Homo sapiens: one gene and its partner. The protein of the gene in region 2 purifies or fractionates together with the protein of the main gene of each other region. This does not show direct contact. Each region holds a gene or a part of one and is shown on either strand. Other genes may lie near its edges.

What was found.
Region 1: the proteins of NR1I3 (region 2) and PPM1B purify together in Homo sapiens (affinity purification with mass spectrometry; 3 studies listed by BioGRID and IntAct, with this or other methods). This does not show direct contact.

Annotation. Positions count from the first base shown.
Region 1 is NC_000002.12:44,167,241-44,170,986, reverse strand, and holds the start of PPM1B (protein phosphatase 1B), read right to left. Parts: upstream 2,113-3,746; 5' UTR 1,713-2,112; intron 1-1,712.
Region 2 is NC_000001.11:161,236,099-161,239,844, forward strand, and holds the start of NR1I3 (nuclear receptor subfamily 1 group I member 3), read right to left. Parts: upstream 2,106-3,746; 5' UTR 1,963-2,105; coding exon of another isoform or gene 1,943-1,962; intron 501-1,942; 5' UTR 468-500; coding exon 361-467; intron 1-360. UniProt on the Homo sapiens protein: Binds and transactivates the retinoic acid response elements that control expression of the retinoic acid receptor beta 2 and alcohol dehydrogenase 3 genes.

The sequences.
Region 1 (3,746 bases), on a different chromosome or scaffold from region 2:
AGAGGCGAAAACACAACAACCATTAAGACAAAAAAAAAGACAAAGAAGGCATTGAGAGAAGAAGCACAAAATAAAGATTATCCCTGAAAATGTGTGGACTAAAATATTCTGTTCTAAATACTTAATTTTAAAATTTCGATTAGAACAACACACTGTCCATTTGGCAGACCTACAAAAACATTTCCTTAAAAAATTACCATTACTTCAACTATATTTTTAAAAGGCCTGTACACTTGGAAAAGACTATCATAATAATTAGAATAACTTGTCTCACTATTTACTTAGAAATGCCCCATTTAAAAGTAGGCCAACAATAGGAACTTTGCTATTGCACAACAGAGAAAGTAAATGAAATAACATCTATTAACATTCAGCGTCCATGGCATGTTTCTCCATCTCCTAGAACATACTGTGACTTACACTGTCTACTCTGAACAATTTACCACTTCTTCATCCATGCAGTAGCTCAAATAAAGACAGTTCCTGTGTTAATCCCACAGTAAGCCTCAGTAATTCTCACATCACCGTAGTTGTAAACGTTTGTTAACAGAAAAAGAATGTTTTTCCTAAAATAGCTACATAACACTAAGACTACTCAAATTCCTAAATAATCCTTTTACAACATGCCTGCCAACTTTATTTTGATACATTAAACATGTGGAGCCTATTTTAAAAGCTCTTTAACTGTGACTATCAAAACAACTTCCCAGTTATTAACGTCTCTTTTTAAAAAAGTTTTCAAGTTGTTCTTAGAAGAAATTGAATATTGATGAATTTGGGCTGCTATCAAACGCCTAAGAAGCACTTTTTTTGCCGAATAAGATGGGCAAACGTCCCAGATCTGCTAAATCTGATATGAGAGGTCATGCAAGTTTAAAAAATGAAGAAATAACTATTTCCAACACTCACTGAGTCCTTCATTTAAAAAATTATTTTCGGTGTTATTTTCACACTTTACGTTTAATAATACAATTTTTTCAAGGTTGTTAGGCTTAAACTATGAAAAACTGATTTACCACATATGGCTAGTCAGTCTATACTCTTAATGGGGCTCCGGTAGATTTGGGGTACTGACAATAAGTGGCAGTTTCAATTAAGAACTTCACTGTTAGGAATGACATCCGAAAAGGATGGTGCTAGGGAAGACAGGCAAGAGATGCCGGGGTACGAAGAAAAGAGAAACACACAATTTAAAGCCACTAAGGAGGGAAGGCGAGGGTAGAACGCATAGACAGCAGAGAAAGACGATTTAACAAGGAAGTGAAGTGGAGCGCAGAGTAGGGCAGAAGCTGATGAGGAAACGAATGGTAAAAGATAGTGTTTTCAAACAGGGCATGCACCAGGAAGAGAAGCGCCAAGGCTTGGGGTAGCCCCAGTGCTTTCGTGTGAAAGAGATGCTTGCAGACTGAAGCGGAGGGAAGAGAGAATCAGTCAGCTTCCAGGCGTTCCAGCAAACTCCCATTCTCTCCCTGCGCCTCTCCCAGACCTCAGCCCAGCGGAGGCGGCGGCCGGGGAAGGGGCCTATACCCGAGAGCCAGGCCCGGCGTTCCCCTGCCTAGGCTCCGCGGCAGCAGGGAAAGCAGCGAGGATTCGGAAGGACAGAGGCCCCGGCCGCGGCTCGGCAGCACCGCGAAAACCTGCCCAGGGCCCGGGGCCTCGGCGGCGCGGCCGGTCAGCCGCTTCCCCTCCGGCGGGGTGCCGGGCGGCCTTACCTGAGGCAAGGGAGGGAGAAGATGTCTAGGGCGCCTCGCTCGCGCCCGCCGCGGTACTCAGCCCAAGTTTCCAACGGAGGCGCGACCCTGACTCAGCCGCCGCTTCCCCCTCGGGGTCTCGACCGCCGCCTCCGGGGCTGTTTACACCGCCCGGCCCCTCACGCCGCCGCCGCCGCCGATGCCGCCTTCTCTCCACCCTAGCGCCGTTGCCGATTCGGCCGCCGCCACCTCCTCCGCCGCAGCCTCGTCTCTCTGGAGCATCTTCCAACCACCGAACCCTGAGAATCAGAGACTCCAGCCGCGCCGGCAGGAAACTCCCCCGCAACTGCTAGGGGAACGAGGCCGTCAGAGCACCGGCGGCTTTTCCGCCATTGAGCAGAAGCCGCTCGGCTCCTTTTGCAACCCCCTCCCCGCACCCTAGTCCTTCCCCGCCCCTCAGGGTGCCCCGCCTCCAGCTGCCACCCACTGGGATGCCGCGCGCCCTCTCACGGCCCCCGGTTTGCTGGGAGTCTTGTCAATCACCGCTCCCCCTCCCCGTGCTGCTCCCTCGGCACCTCCGTACTTCGTTTACCCCGCCCACCCGGCCCCGCCTCTGGGTTTCTAATTTCCCATTGGGCATCAGTGGCTACTTTCAATAGGCAAGGTCAGCTGTCCATCAAACACCGCCCACTAAGTGAGACCCAACCCTTTATTACCATTTACTTTATTCGGCCCCGCCTCCGCTAGGTCCTACCTCCCGAACGTCAGGGACCAGCCCCCGCTACCAGCCATAAGTAGAGCCCTCCGTCAATCAAATAACGCCCACCTGCGCTCCTCCTAGCAAAGCCCCGGCCCCAGCGATTGTCTTTTCTTATTGGTCCAACTCGTGATCCGAACCCCCAGTCACTGGCTTTCTTGCGGGTCAGTCACTGAGCCAATTTCCAAGTCCGTCACACCGGCTTTTTTCAAATGAACGCGCAAAAGGCGGGGAAGTATCTGGAAAGCGATTGGTTCGTCCTAGAAAACGGTCAAACCCGGAGAGTCTGTACGGATCCTTTCCGTTCTGTGAGGACCGTGCCCCCTTGTATTTGACCTCTAAGCCTCGCGTAAAAGAAGCGCCATAAGGGACCAACGAGCAGTCCAGCTATAGGTGTGGACGCCTGGTCCCACCCGGAATTGCAGGGGCTTGGCTACTGATTGGCTAAGAAAGTCCTCCTAGGCCCTCATTGGAGGATCTAAACGCCTCTCTTCGGCGTGGAGACGGGAAGGGACGACTCAGACGAGGACAAGAAGTGGGCAGGGGAGAGGCGGTTGTTTTGCTTCAGCCGCGGGTGGGGCGCAGGCGAGAGTGGGAAACTGGGAAGGCCGGGCTCTGGGGAGGTGTTGCGGGGAGGGGAAAGGCCCGGATGTTCCCTAACAATGAAATCATCGCCGACCTATCAGAGCCGCCGAGCTGGGATACCTGCCTGACCTGTACCCCGGAGGGAGAAGAGTGGGCGGGAAATTGGGGTGTCGGAAGAACCTGGAAAGCAACGTGAGAAAGTGGGACAGGTGTTCCCTTCAGGAGGATTTTGTGCTATTAGAGATTATTTTTATACCAGCCCTTGACATTTCCGTATTTTGTTTCTCAGTCGGCATTGATATTAAAACTCCCAGCCTAGTCTCTTGACATGGACTTGTTCATTTCGCAGTTATTGAGCGCCTACTGTTTGCCAGGTACTGTATGTAGAACTGGAGATACAAAAATAAATTAGGCAATCGCAGTACAAGATGATAGGTACTACAATTGAAACATGCACAAGGGCTGGTGACGACATAAAGGGTCTTCCTTGTGCATAGGTTTACCAAGAAAGGCTTCACAAAGACACAGGATGAGTCAAGAATGAATGATAGGGGTTTAACAGGCCGATGGGGAAAGTGGACATGACTCCTCCAGCTATCAAATTAGACGATGCTGCCATGTTAATTCTCCAAACGAGAAACAAAAGTGTAATAGAGGTATTCTAATACTTACCTTAGGATATATATATATATATATATTTTTTTTTTAATCCG
Region 2 (3,746 bases):
GTCCCCAGGGGTGGATAGTATCCAACACATCTCAAGCATTTCCATGGCAACACAGGATCACTCCAGAAAGCCTAGTTGATGTAGTACTAGCTAGGTGCTTCACAGGCAGTGGGTACATAATAAATGCTCTTGACTAATGGGCTGTGTCCATCAGACAAACATTCAGCTTTCCCTCTGTTATGCCACCAGTTTATACAGTGATGTGTTTGGCAAGATGTAGGATGCCAGCCACAGGGTAGTTAGACTCTAAGATAAAGGAGTAATGTAGCTGGACAGGCTTGGGCACCAGCGAGGGTGTAAAGGCTGACTAATAGGGAGTTTGGTTTGGAGGGCTATTTCCATTGGGGAGGAGACTCTCACCTGAAGAAACCCTTGCAGCCCTCACAAGTCAGCGCATTAAAGTGGTAGCCTGTGGCTTGGTCCCCACATACCACACAGTTCCTCAGCTCATCTTCCCTACTGGCCATGACGTCACGTGTTGGGGTGGCTGTCACAGACTCCTGAATGTAGGAGGGGTCAGCAGTCAGTTTTGGGCCACCCTTGACCCTTTTCTGTCCCTTCTAGAGAGTCTCTTTCCAAACCAAACCAAACATGCCCTTGACTTGATCCCTGGCGTTATCTTTTGTGGTTTTCTTTTTCTTTTTCTTTTTCTTTTTTTTCTGACACAAGTTCTTGCTCTGTCACCTAGGCTAGATCTCTGCTCATTGCAACCTCTGCCTCCTGGGCTCAAGCAATCCTCCACTTCAGCCTCCTGAGTAGCAGGGACTACAGGTCCAGACCACCATGTCCAGCTAATTTTTGTTTATTTATTTATTTATTTTTTTTGTAGAGATGGGGTTTTGCCATGTTGCCCAGGTTGGTTTTTTTGTTTATTTTTTTTTGTTTATTTGTTTGTTCTGTTTTTTGAGATAGAGTCTTACTCTGTTGCCTAGTGTTGCCTAGGCTGGAGTGCATCATAGTTCAATGTAACCTCACACTCCTGGGCTCAAGGGATCCTCCTGCCTCAACCTCCTGAGTAGCTGGAACTATAGGTACACACCACCACACCAGGATATTTTTTTCTTTTCCTTCCTTCCTTCCTCCCTCCCTCTCTTATTCCTTTCTTTCCTTTTTTTTTTTTTCCCTGAAATTGAGTCTTGCTCTGTCACCCAGGCTGGAGGGCAGTGGTGCAATCTTGGCTCGCTACAACCTCCGCCTCCCAGATTCAAGTGATTCTCATGCCTCCGCCTCCTGAGTAGCTGGGATTAAGGTGCCCGCCACCATGCCCAGCTAATTTTTTATTTTTAGTAGAGATGGGGTTTCACCATATTGGCCAGGCTGGTTTCAAATTCCTGACTTAGGCCTGGTGCAGTGTCTCATGCCTGTAATTCCAGCACTTTGGGAGGCCGAGGTGGGCGGATCACCAGGTCATGAGATCGAGACCATCCTGGCCATCATGGTGAAACCCCGTCTCTACTAAAAATACAAAAATTAGCTGGGCATCGTGGCATGTGCCTGTAGTCCCAGCTATTTGGGAGGCTGAGGCAGGAGAATCGCTTCAACCTGGGAGGCAGAGGTTGCAGCGAGCCGAGATTGCGCCACTGCACTCCAGCTTGGGCGACAGAGCGAGACTCCATCTCAAAAAAAACCCAAAAAAACAAAACAAAAAACAAAAAAACAAAAAAACAAATTCCTGACTTCAAGTGATCAATCCTCCCACCTTGGCTTCCCAAAGTGCTGGGATTACAGGCATGAGCTCCCGCGCCTGGCCTCTTTTCTTTCTTTTTTGTAGAGATGGGGTCTGTTATGTAACCCAGGTTGGTCTTGAACTCCTGGGCTCAAGCGATCCCCCCACCTTGGCCTCCCAAAGTGCTGGAATGACACACGTGAGCCACTATGCCTAGCCCCCAGCATTATCTGTATTTTATTACATTTAGTCTTTGGTCCCCAACAGATTTCCTACCTGCTTCTCTTAGGCAGCATGTCACCTGCAGGCCACAGAATCTGGTATGGAATGCCTCTCCCCAAACTCCCACGCTGTTGCTGGTTTTCCTCTGATCTCAGGAGTTGCCAGTGATTGGAGTTAGGGATTATGACCCGTAGTATCTGGAAAACAAGAGATGTCTGTTTTATGTGGCCTCCAGTTGCTCTCAGTGACTGTGGGGTTAGGGCACAGACCCTGGACTCAGGGCAAAGGCCTGGGTGGGAGGTTTTCCCAGCATGACAAAAGTGCTGGTTGGTGGCACACGGGGAGGGACTCCAGTGGGTGGGAACCTTGTGACTCATTGGAAGCTGCTGCTTATTAGACTCATCGAGATTTTCCCTGTTGATGAGTTTAAGGCTACATCTGCAGCCTTCTGTGTACAGAGATCCTGAACAAGCTGGGAAGAGAGAGAGAGAGAGAGAGACAGGCAGACAGACAGAGCAAGCTTTTTCACACGCAGTATGTCAGTACTAAAAGAAGAGGTGTGACAGTTCCACAAGGCTCCCCCAAAAAAAGTTTTTAAGAGACTAGGGGCTGGGCACGGTGGCTCACACCTGTAATCCCAGAACTTTGGGAGGCTGAGGCAGGCAGGTTACTTGAGGTCAGTAGTTCGAGACCAGCTTGGATAACATGGTGAAACCCTGTCTTTACTAAAAATACAAAAATTAGCTGGGCATGATGGCACATACTTGTAATCCCAGCTAATTGGGAGGCTGAGGTGGGAGGACTGCTTGAACTCGGGAGGCGGAGGTTGCAGTGAACTGAGATCATGCCACTGAACTCCAGCCTGGGCACAGAACAAGTGAGACTCCGTCTAAAAAAAAAAAAAAAAGAGAGAGAGAGAGAGACTACGATCTAAGTAAGAGCTTACGGAAAGAGCCCTCTCACTTCCTAACTAGGGAGGGCTGAGAATCAAATCAGAGTGACCACAGGGCACAGTGACATGCCCTGTACATCCCCCTACTCTGGAGACAGGGAGAGAATGGTTTGAGCCCAGGAGTTTGAATCCAACCTGGGCAACATAGCAAGACCCTATCTCTAATAATAATAATAATAAAGTGCTATTTTTAAAAAATATTTTTTTTTTGGCTGGGCGGGGTGGCTCATGCCTGTAATCCCAGCACTTTGGGAGGCCGAGTTGGGCAGATCATGAGATCAAGAGATCTGGCCAACGTGGTGAAACCCTGTCTTTACTAAAAATACAAAAATTAGCCAGGCATGGTGGCGCACGCTAGTATTCCTAGCTACGTGGAAGGCTGAGGCAGGAGAATTACTTGAACCCGGGAGGCAGAGGTTGCAGTGAGCCGAGATCGCAGCACTGCACTCCAGCCTGGGTGACAGAGCGACCACACCCAGCTAATTTTTGTACTTTTAGTAGAGCTGGGGTTTATGTTGACCAGGCTGGTCTCGGACTCCTGACCTCGTGATCCGCCCGCCTCGGCCTCCCAAAGTGCTGGGATTACAGGCGTGCACCTGTAATAATAGCTACTGTGCCCGGCCTATTTTTCTTTGTTTTGCTATTATGTCTTCTGCTTCTTCATTTGCATTAAATTATAATTAATGTTTCTCTAAAGATGAGTTAAAACCCCAAGTGCAGGCTGGAGTCATACACACACACACACACACACACACACACACAGAGAGAGAGACTGAGTTAAAAAGATCCTTGTTTAGGTTACCAGAATGAGTTGGTAGAACCCCTAATCTCAAGTGGTATAGCATCTAACTATGCATAACTTTGTATTTTGAAATAAACTGAGTTCCAGAGAGCACAGATGCTTGG